2 separate regions of the Homo sapiens genome follow, and region 1 is linked to region 2. Evidence: fine-mapped expression QTL. A gene starts in region 2. The other region holds a variant in brackets. All regions are shown on one strand. Distances are from middle to middle. Region 1 has its middle 31 kb from the start of IL12RB2. Region 2 holds the start of IL12RB2 (interleukin 12 receptor subunit beta 2).

Region 1 (4,250 bases), 31 kb before region 2:
CATCTTTGCATCTCAGCAATTATTCCTGGATAAATATACTGCAAATCATCTAAGAAGAGAAAAACCCCTCTGAATTACATGACTGAGTTTCAGAATGTGAGTAAAGTATGGCTAACCAAAATGTTCAAGCAAACTGATGCAAATTTCCTTTTCTATGACTGTGTAAGCAAAACTCTTTTGCACGATACTAAGTTTGATGTGGTGTAGCATGTAAAAGAGAAAGCACCTTTATCTGTGTTTGAGTGGAAACCAGGTAACCTTGTCATAAACTGGGGAAGAAATGACTTAAGTGTCAGCTCCCACATCTCCTGCTGTGAATAGCCTTTAGGGGTGTCATAACCACGAACACACAAACTTGACAGAAACTAAATCTCAGTGCACAAAGAAAATGTATCTGCAATGAATTCATATTGGGCTCTTCCCACACATTATTTAACTTAATCTTCCAAACAAGCTGTGAGGTAGATATTATTATCACCATTTTACACTGAGGAAACTGAGTCAGAGAGATGCTTTTTCTTGCCCAGCACCACTTAGGTCATAAGTGGTGGAGCTGGTTTTGAATGTATTCACCTCGCTCGCACCCCATGTGTCTGTGCTGTACTATGAATTCCTCAAGGGATGGGGACTGGTATTTAGCTTGTGTCTTTAAATTGTCATGAAAGACTAGAGGCTTCTTCTTGGTAGTAAGAAATAACGTGTACAATACCAAGAATATAGCAATTGTACTCAAGAGTATATTAAGGTCAGCGGGTGTGTGTAATAGAGGAATTATGAAAGACATATCTGTGAAACATGCTGAGATTCAGCAGTAATAAATTGTTTAAAAACTAGGCTTGAGAAGATGATAAGAGCTATTTATGACAAACCCATAGCCAATATCATAATGAGTGGGCAAAAGCTGGAATCATTCCCTTTAAACCGGCACAAGACAAGGATGCCCTCTCTCTCCACTCCTATTAAACATAGTATTGGAAGTTCTGGCCAGGGCAATCAGGCAAGAGAAAGAAATAAAGGGTATTCAAATAGGAAGAAAGGAAGTCAACTTGTCTCTGATTGCAGACGACATGATTGTATATTTAGAAAACCCCATCATCTCAGCCCAAAAATTCTTTACACTGATAAGCAACTTCAGCAAACTCTGAGGATACAAAATCAATGTGCAAAAATCACAAGCATTCCTATACACCAATGATAGACAAGCAGAGAGCCAAATCATGAGTGAACTCCCATTCACAATTGCTACAAAGACAATAAAATACGTGGGAATACGATTTACAAGGGACATGAAGGACCTCCTCAAGAACTACAAACCACTGCTCAGGGAAATCAGAGAGGACACAAACAAATGGAAAAACATTCCATGCTCATTGATAGGAAGAATCAATATCGTGAAAATGGCCATACTGCCCAAAGTAATTTATAGATTCAATGCTATTCCCATCAAGCTACCAGTGACTTTCTTCACAGAATTGGAAAAAACTACTTTAAATTTCATATGGAACCAAAAAAGAGCCTGAATAGCCAAGACAATCATAAGCAAAAAGAACAAAGCTGGAGCCATCACGCTACCTGACTTCAAACTATACTACAAGGCTACAGTAACCAAAACAGCATGGTACTGGTACCAAAACAGATACATAGACCAACGGAACAGAACAGAGACCTCAGAAATAACACCACACATCTACAATCATCTGATCTTTGACAAACCTGACAAAAAAAGCAATGGGGAAAGGAGCAATGGGGAAAGGACTCCCTGTTTAATAAATGATGCTGGGAAGACTGGCTAGCCATATGCAGAAAACTGAAACTGGATCCCTTCCTTACACCTTATACAAAAATTAACTCAAGA[T/C]GGATTAAAGACTTAAATGTAAAACTCAAAAGCATAAAAACCCTAGAAGAAAACCTAGGCAATATCATTCAGGACATAGGCCTGTGCAAAGACTTCATGACGAAAACACCAAAAGCAATGGCGACAAAAGCCCACATTGACAAATGGAATCTAATCAAACTAAAGAGCTTCTGCATAGCAAAAGACACTATCATCAGAGTGAACAGGCAACCTACAGAATGGGAGAAAATTTTTGCAAGCTAACCGTCTGACAAAGATCTAATATCCAGAATCTACAAGGAACTTCAACAAATTTACAAGAAAAAAACAACCCCATCAAAAAGTGGGTGAAGGATATCAACAGACACTTCTCAAAAGAAGACATTTATGCAGCCAACAAACATATGAAAAGAAGCTTATCATCACTGGTCATTAGAGAAATGCAAATCAAAACCACAATGAGATACCATCTCATGCCAGTTAGAATGGTGATCATTAAAAAGTCAGGAAACAAGAGATGCTGGTGAGGCAGTGGAGAAATAGGAATGCTTTTACACTGTTGGTGGGAGTGTAAACTAGTTCAACAATTGTGGAAGACAGTGTAGCAATTCCTCAAGGATCTAGAACCAGAAATACCATTTGACCCAGCAATCCGATTACTGGGTATATACCTAAAGGATTATAAATCATTCTACTATAAAGACACATGCACATGTATGTTTATTGCAACCCTATTTACAATAGCAAAGACTTGGAACCAACACAAATACCCATCAATAATAGACCGGATAAAGAAAATGTGGCACATATACACCATGCAATACCATGCAGCCATTAAAAAGAATGAGCTAATGTCCTTTGCAGGGACATGGATGAAGCTGGAAGCCATCATTCTCAGCAAGCTAATGCAGGAACAGAAAACCAAACACTGCGTGTTCTCACTCATAAGTGGGAGTTGAACAATGAGAACACATGGACACAGGAATGGGAACACCACACACCGAGGCCTGTCAGGGGGTCAGGGGCAAGGGGAGGGAGAGCATAGGTTGATAGGTGCTGCAAACCACCATGGCACATGTATACCTATGTAACAAACTTGCACGTTCTACACATGTATGCCAGAACTTAAAGTAAAATTTAAAAAATTTAAAAAATAAAAAATAAAAAAAAAATTAAAAAAAAAAAAAACTAGGCTTGAGAGGAAAGCACAAGTAGTCACCACCACCAGCGCAGCAGTGCCAGAGCCAGGAGGAGATCCCGGCCACTGCCCCTGCCTCCCGCCTGCCGTCAGTCGCCTCCATCCTGTTCCAGCAATCTCTTAAAGCATGATGGGTTAGGCTGGGCACAGCGGCTCATGCCTATAATCCCAGCATTTTGGGAGGTCGAGCCAAGTGGAACACCTGAGGTCAGGAGTTCAAGACCAGCCTGGCCAACGTGCTGAAACCCCGTCTCTACCAAAAATATAAAAATTAGCTGGGCATAGTGACACAAGTCTGTAATCCCAGCTACTCAGGAGGCTGAGACAGGAGAATGTCTTGAACCCCAGAGGCGAGGTTGCAGCGAGCCAAGATGGTGCTACTGCACTCCAGCCTGGGTGACAGAACGAGACTCTGTCTCAAACAAACAAACAAAATCATGGTGGATTACTATGAAATTCTAGGAGTGTGGAGAGAGGCCTCACCCGAGGATATTAAAAAGGCACACCAGAAACTGGCACTGAAGTGGCACCCAGATGAAAATCCTGAGAATAAAAAGCAGAGAGAAAATTCAAACAAGTAGCTGAGGTGTGTGAGGTGTTGTCAGATGCTAAAAAACGGGACATCTATGACAAATATGGCAAAGAAGGATTAAATGGTGGAGGAGGAGGTGGAAGTCATTTTGACAGTCCTTTTGAGTTTGGCTTCACATTCTGTAACCCAGATGATGTCTTCAGGGAATTTTTTGGTGGAAGGGACCCATTTTCATTTGACTTCTTTGAAGAACTCTTTTGAGGACTTGTTTCAGAATCAAAGGGGTCCCCGTGGAAGCAGAAACCAAGGGTCGGGGTAGTTTTTCTCCACATTCAGTGGATTTCCATCTTTTAGAAGTGGATTTTCTTATTTTGATATAGGATTTATTAATACTTCATTTGGGTCACTCGGTCACGGGGGCCTCACTTCATTTTCTTCCACATCATATGTTGGTAGTGGGATGGGCAACTTCAAATCGATAACACTTCTACTAAAAAGGTTAATGGCAGAAAAATCACGATAAAGAGAATTATCAAGAATGGTCAAGAAAGAGTAGAAGTTGAAGAAGACAGCCAGTTAATGTCTTTAACAATAAGTGTTAAGGAGCAGCTGCTGCACTTGGATAACAAGTAATTCAAGGCGCCCACTTAACAGAAATGTTAAACTATAACAAGAACCATCTGAGG
Region 2 (4,250 bases):
GGTTGCAGTGAGCTGAAATTGTGCCACTGTACTCTAGCCGGGGCAACAGAGTGAGACGCTGTTTCAAAAAAAAAAAAACAGAAAAACATATGTATATTTATATGTGTGTATATACACACACACACATATGCACACACAAATATATAAATTAAATTTTTAAATGAGATAGAGTAAAATGCATTTTTGAAATTATTGATTTATTAACAAAACTAAAAGCCTTCCTTCTCACTAAAAAGTGTTGAAAAATCCATGAATTATGCAAGATTGTTATAACATTTGGCTATCATAATCTTATTCTTGATATCAATCAGTTTTTAAAGTAATGAGAAGCTGCTGCATTTTTATATTTTTTAACAAATGGATTTAAAATCCACTGAACTGCTCAATTAAAAGATTGAAACAAAATAGCAAATTGTTTCCGAGTTTTTAAAAGCATTTTCTGTGATGACAATCATAAAATCTTCAGTAAGAAAAACACACAATAATGGGAACACTTCGAAATATTTGTTTTCAAATCGTCTCTTCATAACAACGTATCACTTGGTGTGAAAATTACCTTGAAGAAACAACAAATAAACCTCTGGGGTTTTTTGTTCTTCAAAAAGATCTATTAGATAACATGTACTGAGAGCCATATATCAATACAGAAAAGATCAGCAAATTTAGGATATTTGGGGTTTTTTTGTAAAAATAAAGAAAATAACTCACTTTAAGACAACTTTTAAAATCTTTGTTACAAATGATTTCTACAATTATGTATCATCTCATTACAAAGTAATATTAAGATTCTAGATTCTACGATTTAAAAGATTTTAGTAAAATTATTCATGTAGATAAATTACTAAAGCATGTAAACTACAGTATGTCACAATCCCATAAAGACAATCTACTGTACATTGTTGATTCCAAGATGTACATTTTTCATATTTAACATCTCAAACATTGAGAGCGGTTTTAAGGTAATGCCCAGAAGCGTGGTATGCAGTTGTCCACTTCTGCGGGCTCAGCAAACCTGTACTGGGCTCAGTGGACTAGAAGAAAACTCCAGAGACAACGGGGTGGGGGAGGGGGGGGGACTTAAAAAAAAATTCGATAGATAATATACATATGTTTAAAATCTAAATTTTATTTAGAGATATCTAAATAAAATCTCTAAACTAAATAAAATTTTAGTTTAAAAGATTCTAAATGTTGAGAAAGCATTGTTATTGTTTACCTGGCAGTTCTTTTTATTTCTTACTAGCGCATAAATAATGGTATATCTTATAATTAAGGAAGTCTTAGATTTAAAGAAATCTAAGCTGACGGGTGCAGAGGCTCAGGCCTGTATTCCCTGCACTTTGGGAAGCCAAGGCGGGAGGATTGCTTGAGGCCAGAAGTTTGAGACCAGCCTGGGTAACAGAGTGAGAGTCTGTCTTTACAGGTTTAAATACAGTTTTTTTCTAAGTAATATTGTCATAAATATTATGTCATGAATATTATGCAGAGCTGCCGACCCCTCTGTACTCTGGGCAGTTTTCCCTCTTGCCTGAGAACACCACTTATAACACGGGACCTATACGGGAGTGGTGACACGCCATCTGTTCAAGTTTAACTTTTTTCTCATTTTTTAGACAGCAAATACAAATGGAAGTTCCAGTATGTTCTGCCCGCACTCCAGTGGGCGGTCTTGTGCACAGCCCACTTGGGAGGCCTCGGCGCTCAGGTGTGGTAAGAGCTGGGCGGTGCAGAGCACAGAGAAAGGACATCTGCGAGGAAAGTTCCCTGATGGCTGTCAACAAAGTGCCACGTCTCTATGGCTGTGAACGCTGAGCACACGATTTTATCGCGCCTATCATATCTTGGTGCATAAACGCACCTCACCTCGGTCAACCCTTGCTCCGTCTTATGAGACAGGCTTTATTATCCGCATTTTATATGAGGGGAAACTGACGGTGGAGAGAGAATTATCTTGCTCAAGGCGACACAGCAGAGCCCACAGGTGGCAGAATCCCACCCGAGCCCGCTTCGACCCGCGGGGTGGAAACCACGGGCGCCCGCCCGGCTGCGCTTCCAGAGCTGAACTGAGAAGCGAGTCCTCTCCGCCCTGCGGCCACCGCCCAGCCCCGACCCCCGCCCCGGCCCGATCCTCACTCGCCGCCAGCTCCCCGCGCCCACCCCGGAGTTGGTGGCGCAGAGGCGGGAGGCGGAGGCGGGAGGGCGGGCGCTGGCACCGGGAACGCCCGAGCGCCGGCAGAGAGCGCGGAGAGCGCGACACGTGCGGCCCAGAGCACCGGGGCCACCCGGTCCCCGCAGGCCCGGGACCGCGCCCGCTGGCAGGCGACACGTGGTGAGTGACCAGTGACTCGGGGTCGGGGACAGAGAGAGCCCCAGGATCCCGGACCAGCGGGGTGTCTGCGTGCCCGGGATTCCGTGTCTCGCGTCTCCCGAGGGGGCTTCGGCGACGGCTTCTCTCTTTATATATATATATGTATATATATATTTTTAAAGTCTTCCAATACGATCCGAAATGGCTTCTCTTCATCACAGTCCTAACGCCCTGGGCACAGATGTTCACTTGGAGGTACTGGGTGGTGGTTTGGCTGGATGGAGGGGAGGGAGCGCGCGGACTGAGCCTCCAAGGTACTCTCTGGGCCGGGGCACAGAGTGGTGGGCTCAAACGGAAGGGAGGGGACGGCGACTGGAAAAGGGCAGAGGGCACCCCTGAGGGTCCAGCCTTGGTTCAGGCCCACAGACGTGGCTCCCGTTGCTTGAAAATGTATCAAATGTGAGTAAGATATTGGGGGGGGCCTTCCGTAGTCCCGGATGAGGGTGAACTAACCTTGTCTCAGCAGTCTTTCCTGTGGCCTCTGGACTGACCCCGAGTCCCTGCCTGGCCAGTTACTAGCAAGATGCTCTGGTGCAAGCAAATTGGCCAGCCTCAGTTTTCTCTTCTGTGAAATGCCCCTTCCTTTGTGAACTATGAGGCCCTCCTCATCTCCCTAGGACACACTAAATATCAGTGTCAGCATTGTACGGGATTATGTATCTGTACCATTAGATCCAGGTCTTACAAATAGTAACCTAAAAGCATACAAATAGACCTTGTCTAAGAACAGGGTCCCGGCACGGTGGCTCACGCCTGTAATCCCAGCATTTTGGGAGGCCAAGGTGGGCAGATCACTTGAGGTCAGGAGTTCAAGACCAGCCTGGCCAACATGGTGAAACCCTGTCTCTATTAAAAATACGAAAATTAGCTGGGCATGATGACGCACACCTGTAATCCCAGCTACTCGGGAGACTGAGGCAGGAGAATTGCTTGAACCCGGGAGACAGAGGTTACAGTGAGCCAAGATGGGGCCACTGCACTCCAACCTGGGCAACAGAGCGAGACTCTGTCTTAAAAATAAATACATACATACATATACATATATATATATATACACACACACACATACACATATATATATAAAGAATAAAGCTAAATTAGTCCTTTTTTCCCCATTTTTAAAACTCTAGATAATTGTTATAATCTGCTATGTGTGTGCTCTGTGTAGATGAACATCTTTGTTGAGCACCTACTATGTATTTGGTTTTTGGATATATATTATCTAATTCCTTAAAAACATGGTGAAATTGTTATTAGTATTCCCATTTTACAGATGTGGAAACTTACATGTTTCACACAGTTAGAGAGTTACAGGTTTCTGGCTCAAAACTGTGTTCCTTCTGTTTCCACCTCTCTGGCTCAGAACCTTATAACCACCTCCACTTGAACAAACAAACGTTGGATTCTCATTTTCCATTAATAGGAATGGTACAGTGCCCTATTTCTCTGTCCAACACATAACTAAAAGGACCTTAGTGGCTAAGAGCTAACACTTTCCTTCCCTATTTTAATGTGAAATCCTCAATACATTACACTATCTGTTAGGCACAACAGCCTCCAGAAAAGTTTGCAATATGCTCTTTTCCATATGTCATGCCTCTTGAATGTCATGTTCATTACATAGGCTGATAAATTCCCAAACTTTGACAAACGGAATCTTTTCTGTATTAGAATGAGTTTTAGTGTGAAAAAAAATTCGAAAGCACACATGTAATTTTTAAGGTAGAAGAATCCGCCAAGTACAGTAGGTATTGGGCATCATTTCTCAGTTGTGGACTTATTTTTGTATTGCTGCACCTGCTTTGTTCTCTACCAAATTATTTGTCATCTTTGTAATTACGCTCACAGCACTGCTGTCAACTCCTACAAATAAATTTGTGCA

The links. PIP is the estimated chance that this variant, and not a neighbour inherited with it, causes the effect. A credible set is the group of variants that fine-mapping cannot tell apart.
Region 1: its variant is the best candidate, but not a certain one, in a credible set for the expression of IL12RB2 in whole blood (INTERVAL, PIP 0.54).

Annotation. Positions count from the first base shown.
Region 1 is chr1:67,274,583-67,278,832 of GRCh38, forward strand. It overlaps the pseudogene DNAJB6P4. Among named protein-coding and RNA genes, the nearest start is that of IL12RB2, 31 kb to the right of the region's middle. The variant T/C (reference allele first, on the strand shown) is at 1,856.
Region 2 is chr1:67,305,639-67,309,888 of GRCh38, forward strand. IL12RB2 (interleukin 12 receptor subunit beta 2) reads left to right here and starts at 2,235. Exons shown (of 17, transcript NM_001374259.2): 1 at 2,235-2,329. RefSeq lists enhancers at 1,458-1,557, 1,588-1,637 and a silencer at 2,098-2,287.